Linked DNA regions of Homo sapiens: regions 1 and 3 are each linked to region 2. Evidence: fine-mapped expression QTL. A gene starts in region 2. Each other region holds a variant in brackets. All regions are shown on one strand. Distances are between the middles of the regions.

Region 1 (8,465 bases), 190 kb after region 2:
TCTTTAGCTCCAAGCACCTATTCTTTTTTCTTTTTTCTTTTACTATTTATTTATTTATTTTTTTGAGACGGAGTCTCACTCTGTTGCCAGGCTGGAGTGCAGTGGCGCGATCTTGGATCACTGCAACCCTCCACCTCCCAGGTTCAAGCAATTCCACTGCCTCAGCCTCCCGAGTAGCTGGGACTACAGGCGCACACCACCACACCCAGCTAATTTTTTTTGTATTTTTAGTAGAGATGGGGTTTCACCATGTTGGCCAGAATGGTATCGATCTCCTGACCTTGTGATCCACCCGCCTTGGCCTCCCAAAGTGCTGGGATTACAGGCGTGAGCCACCATGTCTGGCGCACCTATTCTTTAAAAGCAAAATTGATATAAATAGGCTTCGTAGTTGAGAGACCTAGAGTCCAGTCCTGGTTCCAAGCCTTAACTGAATTTCAGAACTCCATGGACAGCCTGTTTCTTCATCAGAAATTAATTATTTCTATGAACATTAGGTAAATATCTGCCTTGAGCCAGGCCCTGTGCTAGTGTTTGCAGAATCCGAGACCTTGGGGAGTTTGCAGTCTAATGGGGAAAACAAATGCAGGTAAGGAGACATAGTATAGTATGATCAGTGATTTCAGAGCAGTATGTATGGGATACCCTCGAAGCAAAGGGTGTGAGGGGACTCAATGTGGCAGCATAGTAGATCCTCACCATATTCTTTGGAGAATCAAATAAGGTAATGTATGTGCTACAGGTTATAAAGGTGGGTTGTTAGTCCCTGATGCCCCCATTAGATCTCTGTACACAAACACATGTGTTATTCTACACCGCTGGTACTTCACCACATGCACCAGTCTTTTCCCCCAGCTTGTAGCTGTTTCCCTCTGCAAGAAATAGCCAGTGGTGCTAAAGAAGGAGAGGTGGAGAGGTGTGTTCCCTTCTGTGTGTAGTATTTTCAAGGTTGAGACTGAATAGGAAACAACACGATGCTTAAAAATACTGTCAATTAGTGATCAGATGGCTAGTAGATATGCTTTTGGGGACACATCTCTTTGAATCTAATGAGTTGTTGGCTTAACTGATTGCTCTGTCTTTATCCAGAGCTGTTAGCAAATCAGTGATGCTTGTTGAGCAAAGTGAGAGTGTTGGCTTATATTTACTTGCTTTGGTTCCTAGGACTAATTATCCATTTTGTGACCTTCTCTTCCACTATCCAGGGAGGACAGATTTTTACTGAAAATAGCACACTCTTGGGTTGGATTTATGTATTCATATCGCAGAATTTTTTTTTGGCCCCTACTGTTTGCCAGGTACTGTTCTATGTACTTGAAATAATGTTGATGAAAAACAAAGATCCCTGCCCACATAGAGCTTATTTCTGTATTAGTTGTGGTCCTTTGGTAGAGAAAGATGTGGATAGACAATAAACAATGAGTATAATGGATGCGTAAACTATTTAATATATTAGAAGATAAGTGCCGTGGGAAAAAGGAAAAGTAGAACTTGTTAAAAAGGGAGTACCAGGAGTACATTGGTCAGGGTGAGTAGGCCTCATTGTTAAGGTGCCCTGTGAGTAGTCTTGGAGGATTAGCATATCCATACCAGCACAATCTGCCAATAAGTTTTTCCTTATTAGAAATATACTGATTTTCATATAATCAATCTCCAAATCCTTCCAGAATCATATTGGTCAGGCCTGAAATGCTACCACCTTTGAATTAGATTTCGATGAAGGGAAGATAGAGGGGGAGCACCCTTGATTCAAGGCTGAAAGCAGAGAACCTTCACCTCCTTCACCTCCTTTAGGATGTAGGCAGCCACAAGCTCAAGAGAGAGATCCTCGGAGTAGCCCAATCATTTCACCCTGATGCTGCTTAATAATATGTTAAGTCTTTAGGGATATAGAATACAATAGTCTCTGTCCTTAAGGAGCTTAATGTCTTATGAATTTCTAGGTCTGTATGTACATTTTATTTGGTTTTGAATAGGAAATAACAGTGCTATAGAACTACACTTTAAAAATATGCACAATAATTTAATTTATAATTTATTTTCTCCTTTTATTTCCAAAAAGAGTTTGAAGTGACTTAAAATACAAATATAAATATACACAGGAGAGGGAAAACTGGATCAAGATCAGAAATCATATTGGTTAAAGGAAAGATAATTGTATAAAGATTGAACCAGAGATTCTCTTTTCTGAAAATAGATTTATTGTTTTTGTAAAAATCATACATAAAATAGTAGTCACCTGAATTCCCTTTATCTGGAAATTGATTGTTATATATATGTTTATGTACAAATTTAACATGAATGGGACCATGCTGTATTTACTGTAAATTAAGTAATTAGGGAAATTGAGTATTAATTTAGATTGAAGTTTCCTGATAGGGCAAAAAAGGGATACAGAGAGTTATATCTTTATGTATTATATATATTTATGGTTTTATATATATAAAATATATATTATCATTATGTATATTCAGCAAACATATTTAAAAACTCTGTGGTGTCAGGTGCTAATGTGCTAGGCTATCAGGGATTCAGAGAATAAGCAGTCACAGCTTTTGCCTTAAGAAGCTTACTTGGACTGCCGACATCCAGGACTTGAGTAATGTGATGGCCATTGTCTTCAGTAGCCGTGCTGCCAAAGCTTTACCAACATTCTACTAGGACAATCCTTTTGCCAGCCCTAGTAACAGCTTGGGTATAGTATTGACTCAAGGAACAGTCATTGGGGTCTGGCCCCTTCTCCACAGTTAGCCCTCTATAAGCCTCATGCCACAAGGCACTTGTTTAGCCTGAGTCTGGGTGTCTCATTCTATATTGCACTCTGACCCAGTCCAGCTAAAGGCTAAGCCACAGGGTCCCAGAATGATCACTGTGACTTAGCGTAGCCTTCACCGGCTTGTGCAAATATACACAGCCTTCAGCTAAATTCAATTAGTTTTTCTTTAAGAAGGAAAAGAAATCCAATTTTACCAAACACGGACAGACGGTGGAAGGCACTTTGATGTTACAACCTCTCGGTGATGCTTTACTTAGTCACAAGTTCATAAGCAAGAAGGCTTAATTACTTGGGAAAACACAGGATTAAAACTGGACACAATGGCTGAGTATCCGCTCTCGGGCGACTTGATTCGAACCCATGCACCCAGTTCGTGTGTGGTGCAAACTTTGATGTGTTCTATGACAGGCTGAAAGTCATGACCCCCTTGGGGAAGCTCCTTCAGATGGCATTTGCAGGATGTGTAGGCGGAGAGGCAGGGCCTGCCAGGCCTGTTTGCTCAACTTTGATGTCCAAGCAGCCACAGGCCCCACTATTTGCTCTTCCACTGAGGGATGGATTGGGAGCCTCCTACCTTTCCCAGTGAACAATGGCCAGCAATGGAGTGTGACGACTGTTGACCATTCCAGAAGTCTGGTGGACCAGAACAGGGCTTTGGGAGGTGCAGAGCCTGGGGGGCCAAAAGCTGTTCATAGGACAGTCATTTCTCCAGATGTAGCTTTCCTTAAAGCTCTGGTATTGTTAGGTGCTTGCAATGGAGATAAAAATAGTCTCATGAGTTTTAGCACGGTTTAAGTACTTCTTGGCCCTCTGTTCCAGCAGCACTAAGATGTTTGTAAATTAGAAGTTTAAGTTGTTCCTAGTCCCTTAATTAGAGTATATGTGCAGAGGATAGTGGTTTAGAAGAAAAATTGTAAGACTTAGATTCTTATAATTTCTAATTCATAAAAAAGGAGCTGTAAAAACATGTATCTTATAAAGCAGTAGTACCCAGAACATATAAAGAAGTCTTACAAATCAATAATAAAAAAAATCTAATTTTTTTAAATGGGCAAAATATTTTAGCAGATGCTTCATCGAAAAAGAGATGGGTGGCAAATAAGCACATGAAAACATACTCAGTGCAAATTCAAGTCACAATGAGATACCACTACATACCTGCTACAGTAGCTAAAATTTAGGAAAACTGACAATACTAAGGGCTGACAAGGATA[C/T]AGAACAATATTGATACATCACTGATAGGAATGCATAATGGTATAGCCACATTGGAAAACACTTTGGCAGTTTCTTATAAAGGTAAAGTATACATTTACCATACCACAGAGCAATAGCAACTCCTAGGTATTTGTCTAAGAGAAATAAAAATGTACGTCTGCAAAAATACCTGTATGTAAATATTTATAGCAGCTTTATTCATGACCACCAAAAACTGGATATAATGCAATGTCCATCAACTGGTGAATGGACCAACAAATTGTGGTATATCCATACGGTAAAAACAGCCAAACAAACAATGACAACAACAAAAGCACCATGCTAAGCTAAAACCAACACAAAAAGCTACCTGCTCTGTAATTCCATGTATATGACATTCTGGAGAAGACAGAACTTTAGGGGCAGAAATCAGATTGGTGGTTGCCAGTGTTTGGGAATGGGAAGAGAATATAAAGGAACTTTTTGGGATGATGGAGAAATATTCTGTATCCTGATTATCATGCTGGTTACATGAATGTATATAATTATCAAAATTCATTAAATTATATATCTTAAAAAGGATGAATTTTACTCTGTGTAAATGTGATACTTCAGTAAACTGACTTTAAACACTTTTTAAAAAGCTGTCATCCCTCTCTAATTTTCATTATTAATTGTGACCAGTGGCATACTGAGAATTTGTATTAGTAGTATCAAAATTAATTCATATTGTTAATGGTCACCTGGAATGTTTTGAATTCTTATTGTTGATGATATCTCACATTAGAGTGATATGCATTCTGATTTTTAGTAGGGAATGAAGATTTGTCAATTCATACTATCAGTGATGTAATGAAGTATAATTACTGATGAATAGTGATAAATTCACTTTATGAGTAGTGTACAGTGGACTTGTATAAATTCATAAAGTATATGATTCTTCATTCCAGCAAGGAGAAAGTTGAGGTTACAGACTGGGAGCTTGCCTCTCCCACACTATTCTTGGGTTCCTTATCTCTGGACTCTCATGCAGGGACACCACCTATATAGTGAGGCCGTTGTGGTGCTTCAGGAACCAAAGATCCTGAAAAGGGAGGCTGGTGTGGGGAGATTTTGATTTCATCCTGCTTGGGCTTGGTGGTGGCTTTTGCAAGCCTTTGCCTCGGAGAAGGTGAGAACTGCAAGGCAGAGCATGAAGCACATCAGAACTGTTTGAAATTCCCCACAAGAGTCTCCCTCCCTCCTTCTGCCTTTTCTCCCCGAGTGCATTTCATCAGTGTCGGAAGGACTGGTTCCCGGCACTGCCTTCCCTGCTTGGCCAGGGTCCCCGAGGAACTGAGCTAATGAGTGGATAACACGCATTTGCCAAGGCCTTCCTGGATGTGGTACCCGGGCTTTGTTAATTTTAAAGTGCTGCCATCCTTGGCTGAAGACCATTCAATTCCCTCTCACAGCAGTCATTTATTTTTAGCATTTGCTTATTTTCCCTCTGCCTTACTAAGGGGAGAGGGTGCATTAAACCCTTTCTTTAAAAAACCGATAGCCTAAGCCAGATTGCTGTCCTACAGAAGAGGTTTTAAAGGCCTTCCTTTGTGGACCCCAACAGCTCCATGGGTGTTCTTAGAGCGAAGAGCAGATGCTAATCTTGCAGCTAGACTACTGGCAGCCTCCCTGGGAGGCTCTGCTTCCTTCCTGGCTAGCTATACGTGGAGCAGGTAGAGTACCAGTGTACCTGTGCTTGAAAGTAGGTCCTTAGGGAACCTGACCAACCACATGGAAGTCGGTCCTGCCTTAGGGGCACAGAGCCTTTTCCGTCTTCTAACCTATTCTTGGTCTGGCTTCGTGCTGTAGAGTAGGGCTACCTTCTGCCCAAGGAGGCTGGGCTTTGTGCTGTGTGATCTCCTGACTGTAGTAATGATGATGGCAGTAGTTGATTGGGTGCTTTCTGTGTGCCAGGCCCATGTCAAGCACTTCCCATGTTGGGTCTAATCCTCAGGGCAATCTTGAAAGGAAGGGATTATTATTCCTATTTTACAGATAGGGAAAATGAAGCTCAGAGTTGTCCAAGGTTGTCCAGCTAGTAAAAGAAGGAGCCAGGATTTGAAGCTGGGTCTTTCTGAACCCCAAACCCTTGCTCTTTCCACTGGACTACACTGCCTATGGAGGGAAGGGGCCGGGAGCAAGGCCATGGGATGGACCGAAGGATGCTGGAACCAGGAGTCAAGTCGGCTCTATCAGGGTTTCTTGATGACCCATGATGTATTATATGGATTTTGAGAACTGTAAAAACAGACAAGCCACTCTCCTTGTTCTCAGAAAGCTGACACTCAGAAAAGGGATAAAAGTCCCGCTTTGGAGAATGAGGCAGAATGTGTTCAGTGCCACAGAGAAGAACACATAGAGTGCTGTGGAGGAGATGATGCTGTGTAGAGCCAGCATCATGAAAAGAGGCCCTTTCAGAGGAGTTGGGCAGGATTTGATTGGTAACATAGGGAGTAGGGGGAGAGCATTTGCAGAAGGACCATTGTGAGCATAGGCTCACAAAGGTGGAAAGCAGAGATGTGCTCGTAGAAGCAACCGGCAGGGAACCCAAGAACATGGGACCCCTGAGCAGGGTACCTTGATATAGGCTGGCTTTTGTTACAGGTGGCCACCTGCCCAGTGCAGGACAGTACCCAGTATTCCCCAGCAAGGAAGGATGGGTGAGGGTGCTGGCCAAGTGCCCAGAATGCCAGCACCGCAGCACCGTGCCCCCAGGAAAGTGTTGGGCTTGACGTTTCTCCCACCCCTACTGCTATGGCCGATTATCTCTGAGTAAGAAAGAGTCATTTCTAATCCCATTTGGAATCGTTGCTCAAGATAATCCTGTTTTGTGGTAATGATATTCCAATTCCAGCATGCACTCGTAGTTTGGCAGACACATGCCTCAACCTCAGGCAACTCAAGACGCTGCTCCCTGGAAATCAGTGCCAGCTCATTTGCCTAACGTGACAGTCTCAGGGTATACTTCCTGGGCCCAATGCTCTGTTCTGTCCTGGGGTTCTGTGTTCAGTGCTGTCTTCATGGAGAGTGGCAGTTGGGGATAGGAGAGCATCCAGTGTTCATTATGGAGAGTGGCAGTTGGGGATAGGAGAGCATCCAGTGTTCATTATGGAGAGTGGCAGTTGGGGATAGGAAAGCATCCAGTGTTCATTCAGTTCAGCTGCTTGGGGCAGGGTGTTCCATCTCTAGGAACTGTGAGATGGTCTAGTTCTATACCTCTTCTTTAAGAGACTTCTTTAAAAACAGCTGTACCATAAGCTGCTTATTTTAACAGAGCTGCCAGGCTGGTGGGCCAGGGGTCGGCAGTAGATATCATGGGTGTTTCAGGCTTTTAGTAAGATATTTGGATGTCTCTAATGACATCTATATGAGTAAAATTATGATGTAAAAATAGTATAGTCAGACTAGTAAATGTAAATGACCTGGTTCATTGTTTATGTATGAATGGACATCAGACTAGAGAGCAGGCTTGAGTGGTGAGCAATGGGGCTCTGTCCTGTTCAGTATTTTATATCACTGATTTCATTGAGGTCATTGATAAATGCCAACAGAGTTAATGAAGCTTGAGGAGGTACTAATATATTGGGTGAAAAAATAGGGGACATTAAATAAAACCTCAGTGGGCTAGAGCAATGGTTAAATCTGTGTTGATAAAAACTAACAAGGATAAGTATATGGGTCAACAATTAAAAACCAACTGTAAAACCCAACGTGCAAAACTTAGCAATACTAAAAGTAAAGTCTAGAAGCTGACTAAAAACCCAATATGTTGTCTGCTGTGCAACATCAGGCCCCAGAAGTGAATTGATTCAGCAAATATTTACTGCCCTGTATAGGCCCTATGTGTGTGGAGATGGAAATAGTCAAGGCACAGTCCCTGCTTTGGGGAGCATCCAGTCTACTTATGTATACTATGGTAGTGAAGAATAGGGGCTCTGGAGTGAAGCTGCCTGTGTTGAAGACCTTGCTGTGCCTCTTATGGTTTTTAGTTTACCCATCTGCAAAATGGGAATAATAATGGCACCTACCTCAGCATAAGGTGGTTGCAAAGATTAAAATGCACATAAAACTACTTAGTGTAGTGAATAAGTAGGTATCTGCTGCTGTTATTAATATTGTTTTTTCTTTTTGTTGTTATTTTCACCCGAGTCTAAGAGATATGCCAGCCCCATCATACTGTTCTGGATCATTTGCCTAGAGAGAGCCTAGTCTGGGTCCATACTGTAATAAGTCCTAACATCTAGGGCCTGACTACACTGGCCTTAGGTTTGGTGACCATATATTATGAACCACAAATTGAAAGACATGGAAGTGTATTTAGAACTACGCTGAGGATGTGAAATTGGGATTATCTTGGAAACCCTGTTGTGGGTGATCTTGATTCCTTGGCCATCAGCTTAACGTGCCATGCCTTCCTCGAGCCTTGCCCCTAATTATATCACCTCTGTCTGGG
Region 2 (8,000 bases):
CTATAAACTGCTAGATGGAGGGGTGGGTGTGCTCTGGGTTGGATGAACCCTCTGGGACCCACAAAGCATCATCAACACAGTGGACAGTGGCTAAAGGGAATATGCTTGGGGACTGGGAAAAGCTGTGGATCTTTTGAGCCCCTGACAGGGCAGCTATAAAAATGATACACAAAAATCTCTTTTTTTGTGGGCAGGGCACAGTGGACAGGAAAGCAGGCTTGGAGGCTTAGTTGGAAAGGATATCTCGAGAACTGAGGACAAACCTGGGGTCTAGAAATGGTGTCATAAATAAATTTCATATCCTACACCAACTCATAAACAGGCAGTAGGTGCCTGAATTTTATTGCAAATGGATCTTAGTTCAGGGAGAAACAGTGCTGCGTCTGATGAGCCATTTCTGTCCTGGGTGCAGGTTCACACTTGGGCTGGCAGGATGAGCAGTTTGTGCTGTGTCACATAGGTGGGGAGAAGTAGACAGATGAGGGGCTGAGTCCTGATGCAAAGAGATGCTGATAGGATGCTGGTCTCTGGAGTCCAAGCAAACAGGCTGGGTTTCAGGGCCTGGAGCTCCTGCAGGAGGTGGACACTAGAGAGCCTGGGACTAGGTAGGTGTCAGAGCCCGGGCCTGAGGTCTGCTGGGGTAGGGTGGAGATCCAGGAGTCCTAGGTCTGAGCTGCAGAACCTACCAGCATGGAACTGTGTTGACAGTTGGGTGGGCCTGGAGAAACAAAGATAGGGGCAAGGCAGAATCAGCTGAGGCAGGGAGAATGTGGGATTGGTGGCATTTGGAACTTGTGGGCATCCTAATGGTGGGAGAATTTATGCCATTCAGCAAACAAATATTGAGCACTTAATGTTGCCATCCCAGTGCTGACCAGATGGCCTTGGGAAGGCCTTTGGGGAAGGGAAGGTAGAGTGAATGGGGGTCCAGCAGGGGCCATGACTTCTTGCTGCTGGCTGTGAGATTGGGTTCTAGGATGGCCCCAGAGCTGGAGAAGAGGTGGTATCAGCAGGAAATAAGGATGGGGCCTTGGTGGCAGCTTTGAGGCCCAGGGCAGGGGCAGGGCTATCTCTGTGTCCCACGCATTTCAGGGAGTGAGTGTTGAATGACTGCATGAGCCAGGGTGGGGCTCAGCTCAGTGCAGTGACTACAGAGAAGCTTCCTGAAACACAGCTAAGTAGCCAGAGAACAGGGGCTCCAGAAGCCCTTCAGCTGTGAGTGGGATGGGGCTGGTGGCAAGGCCAGGGATAGGATACACTGACGACATTAGCAAAGACCTCCGAAGTGTTTCCTCTGTACCAGGCTCTGCACTGGGCATGGGTGATATAGTCATGGCCCCATTTCATAAGACTCGAAGCTCATTTTCAGGGCATAGAGGGAAGAGAGTGAGAAGGGTATTCTAGGCCGAGGGAACAGTGTAGAAAAAAAAGCATGAAGGTGTGAAAGAGCCCAAGGTTTTCTCAGAATGATGAGGATCTTTGTGTGGCTGAAGCTGAGAGATGTTCTGGGTTGAGGGGTGACAGGTGGGTGGGGCTAGCTGAGGGACCACAAATGTAAGAAAGGTGTGCAGACAGACCCAGGATGGTGGGGATGGGATCTAGATCCGAATCACTGGATGGCAAGCATGAATGGGGGATGCCCCACCAGGGTGGAGCACCAAGGCCAGCCAAAAAGTGGGGAAGGGCTTAGGCAGGGACACCTCAGGGCAGCGTGATGTGGGCTAAGGCAGGCTCTTCCCATGACCCACACCATTGGTCCACCCAGCCCCATGCAGCTCCCCAGTGACAAATCATTTGGTGGCCAGATTGAATGACGTGAGCAGGATTTGGGGCTTATCTTGTCTCACCAGAGCTAGCTCCATGAGCAGGGCAAGCAGTCCTCTCCACACCACCACCCTAAGATTTCTGGAGGCACCGAATCAGGGCCAGCGGAGTCCAGGGAGAGTGGGGTAGTGACAGGAGCTGCACAAGATAGGGCAGTGCCACCGCCCCTCCCCAAGGCTGGAGGTGTGCCTGGGGAAGAGCAGAACACCAGCTTGAGCCCAGGCAATCTCTAGTCTGAGGGAGGAGACCCAGCTTTGGGCTGGGTAAATCCCAAATCAGAGACGGGAGGTATGGCTCTGGTTTCAAGCATCTAAGGAGGACTGGAGCCCTCCCCTTGGGCAGCCCCCAGTCTGCAGGGTCATGGGGGTGGGAAGCTGTTCCAAGGGCCTGTGCAGTGGTTATATAGTTGGCAGGTGGGTACCCCTGTGGGCTTCTGATGGAACAGAAGTAAGGAGAGTGGGGAGAGAAGCCAGTCTTCCCTTCCCTCCTGAGTGAGCCCACCCCCTCCTCCAGGTTCACCGACGAGGACGAGCATGTGATCCAGCACTGCTTCCACTACACCAGCACCGTGCTCACCAGCACCCTGGCCTTCCAGAAGGAACAGAAACTCAAGTGTGAGTGCCAGGTGAGTGACCTGCCTTCAGCCTCTCTCGGGCACCGACTCGCTCAGTTTTCAGCCCCGAGAGCCATTCAGAAGGGAAATGCCCATGTCTTTCTGGACTGGTGGCAGCCCTTCCCCAGGTGGCTCCATAACCTCATAACTTGAAGGCTTGCAGTTGTTCAGGACCCGCGCCACTGCCCGCAGGCACTGTATGTGATCGCCCTCTAGTGTTCAATTTGGGCACTACAGCAACACCTAGGCAGCTAGAGCTGGCGTGAAGGCGGCTGAGACACTCAGGAGACTCCTCACCTGCACCGGGGCTATTCCCTCACTCCTTCACTTAGTAGCCAAATGATATAATTAGACACTGACAGTTTCTGGCTTGTCCAGTGAGCCCTAGGGAAGGAAGGAGAAGACCCGGGTGCTGTTGGAGGCAGGAGGTTGGATAGGGTGACCCCTACACCCCGACCCCCCTATGATCTCCATTTCCTTCATTCCAGGCTCTTCTCCAAGTGGCAAAGAACCTCTTCACCCACCTGGGTGAGTGCACTGTTCTCTCTGCCTGGCTGTGTGTGGGCATGGGGGCTGGCATTTGCAGAGGAGAGGCGGGAGGTCTTGGCAGCCTGGTCTCACCCTGCCTGGTCTTCTCCCTTCCCCAGATGACGTCTCTGTCCTGCTCCAGGAGATCATCACGGAGGCCAGAAACCTCAGCAACGCAGAGATGTGAGTGACTCTACCCAGGGGACAGGGCGAGAGAGGCTGTGGCCTTCAGTCCCCATCATCTCCTTTCCTGCCCCACCCACTTCCCTTTCTCTGCCTTCTGCGGGACTTCATCACCTTTTGAGGGATCCTTTATTTCATGCCTGTCTCCCTCGCTAGACTGTAGGCTCCAATACAGCAGGGACAGGGCTGGCTTTGGATCCTCAGCTCCTATCACAGTGCCTGGCACATAGTAGGTGCTTCCAAAAAAAAAAAAAAACAAAACACTTGAATGGACACGTTTCTGGAGCCAGCCAGCCCTGAGCAGAGTGTCTTACCTTGGAGCACTCCTCCCAGGCCTCGGAAATCCGGCCTTTGCCTCCTTATGGGACGTGAGGGCGATCAGAGGGGGTTGTCAGGCCCCAGAGGACCAAACCCCTCCCTCCACAGCTGCTCTGTGTTCCTGCTGGATCAGAATGAGCTGGTGGCCAAGGTGTTCGACGGGGGCGTGGTGGATGATGAGGTGAGAGGGTGTGGAGGGAGTATGTGGCCCTAGGGGTGTCCGGGAGTCCGCCGGCGGCGCTGGGGAGCGGCCCGAGGTTTAACAGTCCCCTCTGTGGCCGGGTCACTAACTTCTTCCTCTCGACTCCATCTCTGCTCCGGCAGAGCTATGAGATCCGCATCCCGGCCGATCAGGGCATCGCGGGACACGTGGCGACCACGGGCCAGATCCTGAACATCCCTGACGCATATGCCCATCCGCTTTTCTACCGCGGCGTGGACGACAGCACCGGCTTCCGCACGCGCAACATCCTCTGCTTCCCCATCAAGAACGAGAACCAGGGTGCGCGTGGCGGCCCGGGCGGAGGGGCGGGGCCTGCGCCGGGCGGGGCGGGTCCGAGCGAGCGGGGGTGGCAACACTTCCCCACCGCCTCCAGCGTCCCGGAGCATAAGGGAGTCGGGTTCCATGCCTGGGACGTACGTAACCTGCGGAAACTGCGAGGGCAGGTCCCGGCCGGATCCCTCCCTCCAACCGATCCCTCCCTCCACCGGTGGTTCCTTGCCCCTCTCCCTTCCCCAGAGGTCATCGGTGTGGCCGAGCTGGTGAACAAGATCAATGGGCCATGGTTCAGCAAGTTCGACGAGGACCTGGCGACGGCCTTCTCCATCTACTGCGGCATCAGCATCGCCCATGTGAGGGCGGGGTTGGGAGTGGGGTGTGGGGTGATAGGGGGCGGGGCCCACGAAGGACCCTCGGTTCTCCTCCTCCGACTGACTCTCCTTGTGGATTGATCCCTTGGTCTGGCACTCAGAGTCCCGCCGCTGGGGTGCAGCCTTCAGGACACGCTGGCCACCTCTGGGCTCAGTTTCCCATCTAAAAATTGGGCATACGATTTCCTGCCCTGTCCACTCAGCCTCCTGGGACCATGAGAAACTCCCGTTGTCAAAACCTCCTCTCTTCCCTGGAAGCAGTCTCAACCCAAGCCGAGTGCTTTTTTGGAAGTGCTGGGTCTCGGTGTCCAGGCCTACTGGCGCTCTGGCCTGGGAATCCAGCCCCAAGGTCCCTGACATGATCCCCTCCTTGCTTCTCCTTCCCTGCCATGGGCCTTGGGCTCCATCACTGAAGCCTGGATCAGGTGTGGGGGAGTGCAAAGGGCCAGACCAAATGCTGGGAGAACTTGATGAGGAGGAACCGGCGCGGGGTCTGGATGAAAGTGGGGGTGGGGTCTTTACTGTGGACTGGAGCTTGAAGGTTTTGACTGGGGCCAGAATGGGACAGGAAGTGGGGTGTCTTTTTGACCCCTTCATCCCAGTCCTGGGCATTGCTAAATTTTCACAGCCACCTTCCTTGAGCCCCATCTTTCCCTCTTTCCCCTAGTCTCTCCTATACAAAAAAGTGAATGAGGCTCAGTATCGCAGCCACCTGGCCAATGAGATGATGATGTACCACATGAAGGTGAGGCTTGCAGAGACCTCTGGTCCTCCTCCCAGATTCCCCGGGGACCCAGGGCCAGGCAGGGCTTCCTGATCAATCTCTACTGAGGATGAGAGGATAGGCCCAGAGCCACAGCAGGCCTCCTGCCCTCCTTAGGGGCAGCTCCCACCCCTGCTTAGAGACCTCTCCTCCAAGCTGCTTCTGAGCTCAGTCCCAAGGCTGGAAGTAGCCAGAGGAACCAGCCCAGGGAGTAATTGGTTCAGCCAGGTATTCCCCATGTTCAGGGAATAATTCCCATCTTGGGAATTACTGAGGGCTAGGAAGCTCACCCAGGACCCGTCCCCATGGCTTCCCTAGGTACAATGCCCATGCAGCCCTGGGCAGTCTTAATTGCTGATAATCTATCCCATTCCCTACCCTGGGTCACAAAAGCTGGCTTAGTTCCATGTATATGGTAGTCGCTGTTCATTTGGACATTTCCTCTCACCTGTGTCCAAACCAGAGAGGCCCAGACCTTGTGAGTTGGATCAAAACTGTAGTAGGAAGAGTTAAGGTTAGAGAGTAGAAAGGTCTCCACAAAAGGAGGACTGCTACAGTTACTGTGTATGAAATGCTGCCATGGTTAGGGGGTGTCATGAAGGGGTGTTGTCGATCTTTGCCAAGGTTATGCTGTTACAGATAAAGGGTGGTCACCTGCAGGGAGGCGCGCGGGGTGGGCTGCAGGGCTGTGAGGGGAGGGTGGTGATTTCCTGCCCAGTTACAGTCCACAGCGTGGTGGCCCAACTGTGGTACATTCTGGGTGACGGATCCCCCACCTGCCATGGGAATTTGAGGGTGAAGACACCAGATGGGGTGAAGGCTGTCTTCTAATGCTCTGGCTGGTCTCCTCTAGGTCTCCGATGATGAGTATACCAAACTTCTCCATGATGGGATCCAGCCTGTGGCTGCCATTGACTCCAATTTTGCAAGTTTCACCTATACCCCTCGTTCCCTGCCCGAGGATGACACGTCCATGGTGAGTTGCTCTCCTCCACTTGACTGGCCAGGCCGAAGGTATGTAGCCAGAGGCTTAAGTTAAATGCGCATCAAGAACTTCCTGGGAAGACAGAGTCATCAAGGAAGGCTGTGGAGGGTCCCTCAGAGATGGAGGGGCTTGTAGTCTGCCATCAGGAAGCCATAGGGCCTGCCCAGGGGCTAGAGGCTGGACTGGATGATCCCAAGGGCTGCTCTTGGACCAACCATGCCCAGGGCATGTGACCTCAGGGTTTGCATCCCTCCCAACCCTGTTTTTCTAACATTTTGTGTGGGCTTGGTTTCAAGAGTTCTTAGTTCTTAGATCTCTAAAAATGCATAGCTCCGAGAACGGTTGCTTCAACTATTTTGTGGTTCTCTAGTTTAGATGTAAGTTTCTAAGACTCCAGATTTTGAGTGTGGAGCTTGAAGAAGGACCCAGGCAAGGGCCCCGTCTTGATACTGGCAGCCCCTCTGATACCTCCCTCTGCCCTCTCCAGGCCATCCTGAGCATGCTGCAGGACATGAATTTCATCAACAACTACAAAATTGACTGCCCGACCCTGGCCCGGTTCGTGCGCCCACAGACAGCCCCAGTCTTCGCCTCCCTCTTTCCTCTACTGTCACATCCGTTGCCCCCGGCATTCTGGAGAGGATCTCTCTAAGGATGACTGGGGAGACCCAGTCTTATGGGGGTGGGGAGGATCCATGAATGAGAAGCAATTCCTAGACACTGAACTGTCAATAAAGGCAAGAAATGAGGCAAGGCAAAGCCTGGAGGCAAGGCCGAGAGTGTGTAGCCAGAGGTTTAAGTTAGATGTGCATAGGAACTTCCTGCTAAGACAGAGTCATCAAGGAAGGCTGTGGAGGGTCCCTCAGGGATGGAGGGGACATGTAGTTTGCCATCATGGGGCCGTGATGGAGGAGGAGAGGCTGAGGCCCCTCTTCTGCCCTCTTCCCTCCCCCAGGTTCTGTTTGATGGTGAAGAAGGGCTACCGGGATCCCCCCTACCACAACTGGATGCACGCCTTTTCTGTCTCCCACTTCTGCTACCTGCTCTACAAGAACCTGGAGCTCACCAACTACCTCGAGTGAGTGGCTGCATCTCCCCCACATCTGGCAGCCACTGGGGTCCCCTCCCTGGGACAGGGAAGCACCCCCTGTGTGTCAGGCACTTTACACGCACTGCCTCATGGGATCTTCTTAGCCCCAGGGGACTAGAGGGGAAGGCTGTGAGCCCCATCTTCCAGGAGGGGCTTGCTCACAGCCAAGCAGCTAGTGAAGACTGAGCCTGATTTAAACCCGGGTCTGCTGGGCTCCAAACCAGTGCTTCTTTCCAGGAAGGGAACCCAGGTGTTCCAACCTCCTGTCCCAGTGGCTCCTGGGCATGTCATCTCCTGTCTGTCCTCTTGGGGATTTAGGGAGGGAACTGTGGGCTGACCTCTTTTTTTTCTCCTTTCTGCCTCTCAACCAGGGACATCGAGATCTTTGCCTTGTTTATTTCCTGCATGTGTCATGACCTGGACCACAGAGGCACAAACAACTCTTTCCAGGTGGCCTCGGTAAGACCCTGCCCTGCTCACAGTGGGGACCCTCCATGGGGTGTCTGGGAGTCTCATCCTCTCCCAGCCTGAAGATGGGTGGGAGCGAGTGAGACCAGGAGCCAGGTTTAGACACAGGAGGAGGTTCCCCCAGGGTTTGCCCCTGGCTCTGAGATAGGGAGGAGGGGAGAAAGGTGGAAGGGCAGGACACTGCTCAGCCTAAAGCAGTGGCACTTGGATCCGGATGTGAGGAGTGACCACAGTTTTCCTGGGCTTTTCCAGAAATCTGTGCTGGCTGCGCTCTACAGCTCTGAGGGCTCCGTCATGGAGGTATCACTCTTCTGTCCCACCCCGTCCTTCTTCCCCTTTAAGGCCAGTGACTTGCAAA
Region 3 (8,000 bases), 36 kb before region 2:
CAGTGGCTGTGCCACCAAGTGTGTAACACTGTGTGATATTGATTGTGTGATGCTGACACCGAGTGTGTGACATTGCACATTGCATGCTACCACGTGTGTGACACTGAAAGTGACAGTGAGCACATGGAGGGTGTGTCTCCATGAGAATCAAATACAGAAACGTGAGCAAATGACGCTGCAGTAGCAGGTATGGTCCTGAGTCTGTGGCTCGAGTGTCTGACACTGAATTGTGACATTGAGTGTGTCCCAAGCATATGATCTAGTGAGGCTGAGTGTGTAAACAAAGGCATGACATGGAGTGATAGCAAGTGTGTGGAAGTGGGCGTGTGATGCTGTGTGATCTTGGGCCTGACATTACATGTGTGATGCTCTGTAATGGTTGTAACAGTATGCAATGTGCACATACAGTGCTGTGTAGGACACTGTCATGGGAAGGCACCGATGGGTTCAGGCGGGAAAGTAACACCGTCCAAAGGATGGTTTTAAAAGATTGCTCTGGCCAGATGCAGTGGCTCACACCTATAATCCCAGCACTTTGGGAGGCTGAGCTGGGTGGATCACCTGAGGTCAGGAGTTCAAGACCAGTCTGGTGAAACCCCATCTCTACTAAAAATACAAAAATTAGCCAGGCATGGTGACAGGCGCCTGTAATCTCAGCTGCTCGGGAGGTTGAGACAGGAGAATCACTTGAACCCAGGGGGCAGAGGTTGCAGTGAGCCAAGATTGAGCCATTGCACTCCAGCCTGGGTGACGAGTGAAATACCATCTCAAAAAAAAAAAAAGAAAAAGATTGCTCAGGTTGCAGAATATGTATGTGTGCGAGTGTGCATGGTGCGTGGCAGGGGAGGGGAGATAAGTTAGGGGGAGGCAGAGAGAAGGTGGGTAGAGCAACTGGAGGCTCCTGCAGCTGCCCAGGCAGGAGATGGTGGTGCCTGTGTTAATGGAATGGCAGAAGAGTTAGAGATATGGAGCAACTTTGGAGATATTTGAAAACAGAAATGACAGAACTTGCTGATAAATGAGAAGATGAGCAAGAGGGAAAACCAGAGAACAATTTCCAGGGTTCTGGCTTGAAGAACCAAGCGATGGATGGTGAAGATGTTTCTGAGATGGGCAAAGGCAAGGGGGAGGGTCAGCACTAGTGGGGTGGGAGGACAAGGAGGCAGAAACCGAGTGAGCTGTTTTGGATGTGTTAAGGGAAGCATCCAGGTGAAGGTGTGCAGTGGGCAGCGGGGCCAGGCTAGGGATACATCTGGGAGTCGACAGGCATGGGGGGTTTGTTAAGGTCGTGGACCTGGCTGGGATAATGGAGAGAGGGAGCTTGGCAACAGAAGAGGTGGGGACTGAGGACCGAGCCTTAAACTCTGAATATTCCATTGTCTAGAGGCCGGGGAGGTGAGAAGGAGCAGCAACGAGACAGAGGAGGAGGGCCAGGGAGGCAGAGGAGACCAGGAGTGTGAAGCCAGAAGCCAAGGGAGGAAAGAGGCTCAAGTGGGAGGGAGGGTCGGTGTGTGGATGGTGCTGGCCCACAGGTAAGATGGGAACCGGAAGATTGTGCTGTGCTGGGCACTGTGGGTGAGTCAGGCTAATGGGAGCCATTTCAGTGATGGGCTGGAGCCAGAAGTCAGACTGGCCTGTGTAGGATGGTGAGGGAGGTGAAGACGTTAGCCTGGAGAGCCCTTTGGAGACGTTGGGCTGTGAGGGCTGCAGAGAAGGACATGATCGCTGGAAAGGGAGATTACATTTTTTTATTATGGGTGATTCTAAGCAGACACAATACCAGAGAGAAGCATATAAGAAACTGCCATATACTCATCACCCCAGTTCAACAGTTGCTGGGATTTGGCCTCATTTCTTCCTCTCTTGCCCCCTATCTGTTCTTTCATTTTCCTTTGCTTAAGCTTAAAATTTTTTAAATTGTGGTAAAATATACATAACTTAAACTTTACCATCATAACCATTTCTAAGTGTACAGTTCAGTTGTGGTAGGTACATTCACACTGTTTTGCAACCAATCTCTGGAACTCTTTCATCTTCTCAAACTGAAACTCTGCACCTATTAAACGACAGCCCCCATCCTCCTCTGTCTCCAGCTCCTGGCACCCACCATTCTACTTTCTGTCTCTATGACTTGGACTACTCTAGATACCTCAAGTAATTGGAATAATGTAGTATCTGTCTTTTTGTGACTGGTTTTTAAGTTTACTTAGCATAACGTCTTCAAGTTTTACCCATGTTGTAGCATGTGACAGGATTTCCTTCCTTTTTATGGCCACATAATATTCCAGTGTATGGACAGACCACATCCATCCAACACCAGACACTTGGGTTGCTTTCACATTTTAGCTATTGTGAGTAATGCTGCTATGAACATAAGTGTACAAATATCTCTTCAAGATCCTGCTTCCAATTCTTTCAGATGTATACCTAGAAGTACGCTTGCTGGATCACACAGTCATTCTATTTTTTGGTTTTTGAGGAACTGCCATACTGTTTTCTGTATCTTTTTACATTCCCACGGACAGTGTACAGGGGTTTCAGTTTCTCCACATCCTTGCCAACATGTGTTATTTTCTGTTCTTTTTTTTCTTTTATTTTTTAATGGTAGCCATCCTAATGGGTGTGGGGTGACATTTCATTGTGGTTTTGATTTGCATTTCCCTAATGATTAGTGAAGTTGAGCATCTTTTCATGTGCTGGTTGGCCACTTGTATATCTTCTTTGGGAAAATGTTGATTCAAGTCCTTTGCCCATTTAAAACATTGGGTTGTTTGCTTTTTTGTTGTTATTGAATTGCAGGGGTTCTTTATATATTCCAGATATTACCTCTTTATCAGATAAAAGCTTTGCAAATATTTTTCTCCCATTTCATAGGTTGCTTCGCTGAAATATGTTAAAGCAAATCCCAGACATGATGTCATTTCACCAAAGGTAGACTTTTTTTTTGGTGGGGGGAGCTTTCCGGTGAAGACTGAAAAACCTGCTAGACAAATTCTAAAATAGATGTGACTTTGGATTTTTGTTTTTTAAGGCTAGGAGGTCCTGGATGATGCTGAAATGTAACAGTGACACAGAGCCAGTGTGGAACTGTGTCTGATGCTGTGTGAGGGTGACATGGTGGCTTTGGGAACATGGGTGCAACACTGAAGATATGGGAGACTCCAAGTGAGGGTGACAGTGAGAGATCACTGTGTGTGTGGCCCTGTGACACCCAGTGACATGGGACAGTGGGACGCTGTGGACCCTGAAATGACTGTGTGTCACCGAGCAGGTGGGACCTGCTGTGTGAAGGCCACAGGTGTCATGTCTTCTTGTGTCATCCTGGTTGATGAGTGTGACACAGTGCAGGACTCTGCATGGGAGTAAGAGGGACTGAAGCTGTGCTATAGGTGACCGGGCTGCATGTGATTCAAGTGGGCTCAGCCCCAGCTTCAGCTGCTGAGTATGGGAGGGAGCATGGACATTGTAGGGTAGATGAGGAGAAACACTGAATGGGAACAGAAATGGTGTCTGTGCCCAGATGCGAGCTCCTCCCTTCTCTGAATACCCAGGAAGGCTTCCTGGAGGCAGGATGTGGGCACTTCAGCAGGATGTTGTAGGTGCTGATTAAGAGCAGGGCCTGTGGTGTCAGACA[G/C]CCCTGTCTAGGCTCTGACATTCAGCAGGTCATTTTATCTCTTGAGCCTCAATTTCCTCAAGTATAAAATGGGAGCTCTTAGGAGGATTGCATGAAGCAGTGCTCCAATGCATGCAGTCTCTGGCACTTGGTAAATACTCTATGGTCTCTTGGGGAGCAGCAACCTCAACACCTGCACCCCAGGTCCCCAAATAACAGGAGCACCAGTAGGAGCACAGTGAAGGTGCGCTGAGTGAGGTGTCCTCTTACACCCACAGCCCTCCTCTCTCCCTCTCCCCCAACTTCTGTCCCCTGCTTGGTGTTGTCAGCGATACCCCCTCCTGCCCACTCACTCCTGCCCCCTCCTCTCCCCTGCCGTCCTTACCACTGTCAGCCTCCAGCCCAGGCTCCTGCAGCCTCATCCAATTAGGCCAATGCAATTTGCTCAAGAAAAAGCCCCATAATTTGGTTAATCACACCAGTAGGGGATCTGGTCCCGGTCGGGAGGGTGGGGGTGGATAGGAGTCCATACCCGCAGCTGAGGCACAGGTGTCAAAGTGCCTGTCTTTTGGGACCTTTACCCACTTCCTTGGGCTCCTTTCAGGAGCCAACAGAGTCCAAAGCTTGGGTCTTCTCAAACCCAACTACAGAGGCCTTGAAACAGGAGTCTGGACTTCCTGGGTTCGCTTGTGTTCCTGGGAGGGTCCCTGCTACTCTCTGGGCCTCAGTCTCCCTTTCCAAAAATGGGAGTGGAACTGGGGAGTCTCAGAGGCCCCAGTTGGCCTAGCTCTGCATCCCAGCTCTGGTCAGTCCCCCTTGTGGCTTCTGAGGGGCCTTCTCCTGGGCCTTGGGGAGGGAGCACTGAGGGGTAGGTGGAGAGCACAGGGCCCCAGGGAAGTGAGGAGGGGTAAGTGTCCTCTGAGTCTCATCTGGAATGTGTCTACCCCAGTCCTATAATCAGAGACCCTCTAGTTCCAGGCTGCACACCTGAAGGTGGGGCAGGAAGAAAGGAAGCTGCCCTTTCTTGGTCACCTGCAAGGCCAAAGTCTCTTAACCGTGCAGGCTATACCTTGCACAGGAGCTCCAGCAGAGGTGGGGTGGTGCTGAAACTGAGCCCACTCTCCCTCACCAAGCCTTTCCCCTCAGGCCCGCATCTGCCCAGAGAATTGGGGTCCCTCCTTTCTAATGTGCACACAGGTGGCCCCAGCCCCCTGCTGGGAGTCAGCTTAGGCAAGGTTTGATGGCTCAGCTTAATCTTCTCAGCAGCTCTGGGGGAAGAGACCATTTTACGGATGAGGAACTGAGCCCAGGAAGGTCCAAAGACTTGTCCAGTACATGTGGTGTGTGGCAGGGCAGGCAGATGAGCCCGCATCTGAGGGAGGCGATGGGAGAAGTGACAGGGGTGCGCAGAGGAGGAGAATTAGACCCTCTCAGATTCCACCACTCTCAGCCACACGTTCACTCACTCATTTGGAGACAAGACTAACCACCAGCGCATTCACAGCACCCCAGACAGCCACATACTGACTATACCACTGTCACATGGACATCAATGACCTGAATCACATATGCATAGATGCAGGCCCACATGGTCACTCCCACGTGCAGATGGCCAGTGCACACACATAGACACAGGGTACTCACACATGTTTACACTCTCACGACCCATGTGGGTTACAGATTCCTACAGAGACACAGACCTACATACTTTCACAAGGAAATTCTCCCAGTGACCCAGGGAACATAGTCTGCCATGATGATGTGATGGTCCGTAGGGGCTCGCCACTATGGACCATTAATGGGCAGGCTGCACACATGCTTAGGTCCCCAGCAAAGCGGGAGTTCTGCACAGAGTGAGAGGAGAGGTCAGTTCTGATGAGTGTATCCAGAATTTTGCAATCAGAAAAACCACACAAAAACTATTTTAATTTTCATTTCCAAGATAAAATTTAGTTTGAATTGTATAGAGGGTCCGAGGGTCTGGTGGGAGGGCATCATCATCTTTTCAAGGCTTTGGGGTTCTAAGGCACCCACAGATTCACAACAGTCCCACAAGATATCCCAGGCTGACATATTTACCCAGCCCAGTGTGTGCGTGTGTGTGTGTGTGTGTGCGCACGCTGTGTGCATGCTCATGCTGGCTCCCAGATCCTCGGGATGTGAGGAAGGAAAGTAGGAGAGATTCCAGAGACTCCGGATGTTTGTTCTCTGGCTTCCTGGGCCCTTCAAAGGAAAATAACTCTGGATGTCAGCCTGCCTGCCTGGCGGGCTGGGTGGAGAGGTGGGCTGTTTATGTTGGGAGGTGGGCTGTATGACAGCCTGCCTCAGCCCCTGTGGCCCCACTGACCGGGACCCTGTGTAATGAGGCAGAGTGACCAAGGCCCATGGCCAGCGTCCCATGGGCTCGTAGGCCCATCGCCTCCCCTCTCTGGGGCTTGGCTCTCTCATCTGAAAAATGGAGGTGGGAAGGAGATGAGACTGGATGGGCTTTCTCCTGGAGACTGATTAGAGAGACAGAGACTCAGGCCCGGGGTCCAGAAAAGACAACCAAAGCTGGGGAGGGCACATGAAGGGGGGCAAAGAAGGTCTGGGTTCAGGGGAGTGCGTGGGGCCCCAGAGCCTGCCATGTCTCCGCCAACTCTCTCCCTCACTGGAGGAGGGCTCTGTGCCTTGGTGCCCCACCTGCCCAGGGCCCTGTGGCTCAGCCCCTTGCTTGCTCTGTGAGGGGGACGGGAGAAGGATGAGAGTCCCAGTGATAGGGGGAGGACAAGACCAGGGGAGAGGGCTGGGGGTTTCTGGAGGGCCAGAGCAGGAAGAGCAGGAGAGAAGAGAGGACACCACAGTGCAGGAAACGGAGGAGCAAAGGCTGGGAGTGGGGAGGCTGGAGGGGTGCAGGGAATCAGACTGGGGCGCTGCGAAGAGGCCTGAGGCCAGAGCAGGCAGTGCCTGGATGGAGGGAGCGAGCAGCTCCTCACCCTCAGCTCCTTGATGAGGTAAGGTGACCACGAGCCCTGCTCCAGGCTGTGTGCTGAGCACTTTGCTCGGAGCCTGTCACTCTGGAGGAGGGGAGGGGGTGTTCCCAGGAGCTATGACAGTCTTGTGCAAGGGAGGGACAGGGTCACATTTATGTTTAACAAAGCACTGCGCTGGGAGAGAGGAGCTGAGAGACCCCGGCCCTGGGGAGCATGGTGGCTGGGACCCCGGAGGGCAGGCGTGCCCCAGACGGACCCCACTCAGAAGATTGCTTATCCCAACCCCCCAAAGAGAAAGGCTATTTTTAGGAACAATAAAAGTGCTCACACATTCCTGCAGGGGCAGAGAGAGGGAAAGGGGGCAGGAGTCAGTGCAGAGGAAGAGGGTGGACCCCGCTCTTCTCCCAACTCTGCCTTGGTCTTCAGGGACTTCTCCTCAGGGGCTTCCCCAGCCAGCCCTGCCTCTCCAGCCTCCGCCTGTCCCTGGGGTTCCCTACCGGCTCTTATGTCTATCCCTCTGCTTCTGAATTGGTACTTGTTCTGTCCCTGTCTCTCTTTCTCATACTTCCACTTTCCCCCTCCCCCTGGGGTTTGGGGAACAGCTGGGATGGGCCAAGCTCTGTTGAGAGAGCCAAATACAGTCATAGGACAAAGCAGCGGGAGGCTGTGGGATACACACATGCCGCAGAGCACAGACAGAGAGAGGTGGCCAGGCACAGAGAGAGCGCCCAGGGAGGCTGAGAGGCAGGGAGAAAACACGCTGGGACAGTCAGGGAGAGCCCCAGGGCAGGCATCACCGGGCAGCCAGCCTCTGTGCCCTGCTCTCTATCTTGTCCCTAAGAAGACCAGCATGGCTGGGCTTGCCTCCCGCCATCCACCCCACCAGCCCTACCCCAGGCTGGCCCTTCCTCCCCGCCCTCTGCAGGCCCACACTAACCCTAGGCCAGGCCGCCTCCTTCAGCATTTACCTCCCACACACAATGGGCACAGTGAGGACATAAGAGACCCAGTCTCTGGCCTGGAGGCAGATACTCAGCCTTACCCGACATCTGAGAGGGCTCAGCCCATCCCCTGGCCAAGGCAGGTATTAGAGGGGCCCCAAAGACAAGCAGGACTCTGGGACAAGGTGTCCTAGTGTGGCCCAAAGGGCTGGGCTGAAGCATGGGTCTCCTGGCTCCAGATGAGAGCCTGGGTGAATCCTTCCCTGCCTCCTCTGGCCTTAGTCTACCCCATCAAGCTTGGGATTGGACTACATGAGGCCTGAGGCCCTGTAGCCCCTGGTCCCTGGGAATTCTCAGAAGGCCTGGGAGGGGGACAGGTGACCACGCAGGAAGGCTTCCTGGAGGAGGTGTCCTCACTCATGAAAGAAGGTGATAGTGACAGTGCTCCTCTTGGGGAAGAGCCCTCCATCCTGA

What was found. PIP is the estimated chance that this variant, and not a neighbour inherited with it, causes the effect. A credible set is the group of variants that fine-mapping cannot tell apart.
Region 1: its variant is the best candidate, but not a certain one, in a credible set for the expression of PDE2A-AS2 in whole blood (INTERVAL, PIP 0.50).
Region 3: its variant is the best candidate, but not a certain one, in a credible set for the expression of PDE2A-AS2 in whole blood (INTERVAL, PIP 0.71).

What each region holds. Positions count from the first base shown.
Region 1 is chr11:72,393,040-72,401,504 of GRCh38, reverse strand. All of the region lies in intron 3 of CLPB (ClpB family mitochondrial disaggregase), which reads left to right. Among named protein-coding and RNA genes, the nearest start is that of CLPB, 37 kb to the left of the region's middle. The variant C/T (reference allele first, on the strand shown) is at 3,991.
Region 2 is chr11:72,580,519-72,588,518 of GRCh38, reverse strand. It overlaps PDE2A-AS2 (PDE2A antisense RNA 2), which reads right to left and starts at 3,913. Exons shown (of 2, transcript XR_001748291.2): 1 at 3,463-3,913; 2 at 313-718. PDE2A (phosphodiesterase 2A) reads left to right here. Exons shown (of 31, transcript NM_002599.5): 14 at 2,338-2,449; 15 at 2,926-2,965; 16 at 3,085-3,148; 17 at 3,575-3,647; 18 at 3,791-3,968; 19 at 4,206-4,318; 20 at 5,004-5,081; 21 at 5,953-6,075; 22 at 6,572-6,642; 23 at 7,040-7,162; 24 at 7,546-7,633; 25 at 7,895-7,942. RefSeq lists silencers at 2,643-2,742, 3,973-4,082 and enhancers at 3,185-3,706, 3,707-4,230.
Region 3 is chr11:72,616,780-72,624,779 of GRCh38, reverse strand. The region is part of intron 2 of PDE2A (phosphodiesterase 2A); the gene reads left to right. It overlaps LOC105369377 (a long non-coding RNA gene), which reads right to left. Exons shown (of 4, transcript XR_001748292.2): 4 at 5,591-5,836. It also overlaps the pseudogene RNU7-105P. Among named protein-coding and RNA genes, the nearest start is that of MIR139, 5.6 kb to the right of the region's middle. RefSeq lists an enhancer at 5,880-6,399. The variant G/C (reference allele first, on the strand shown) is at 3,635.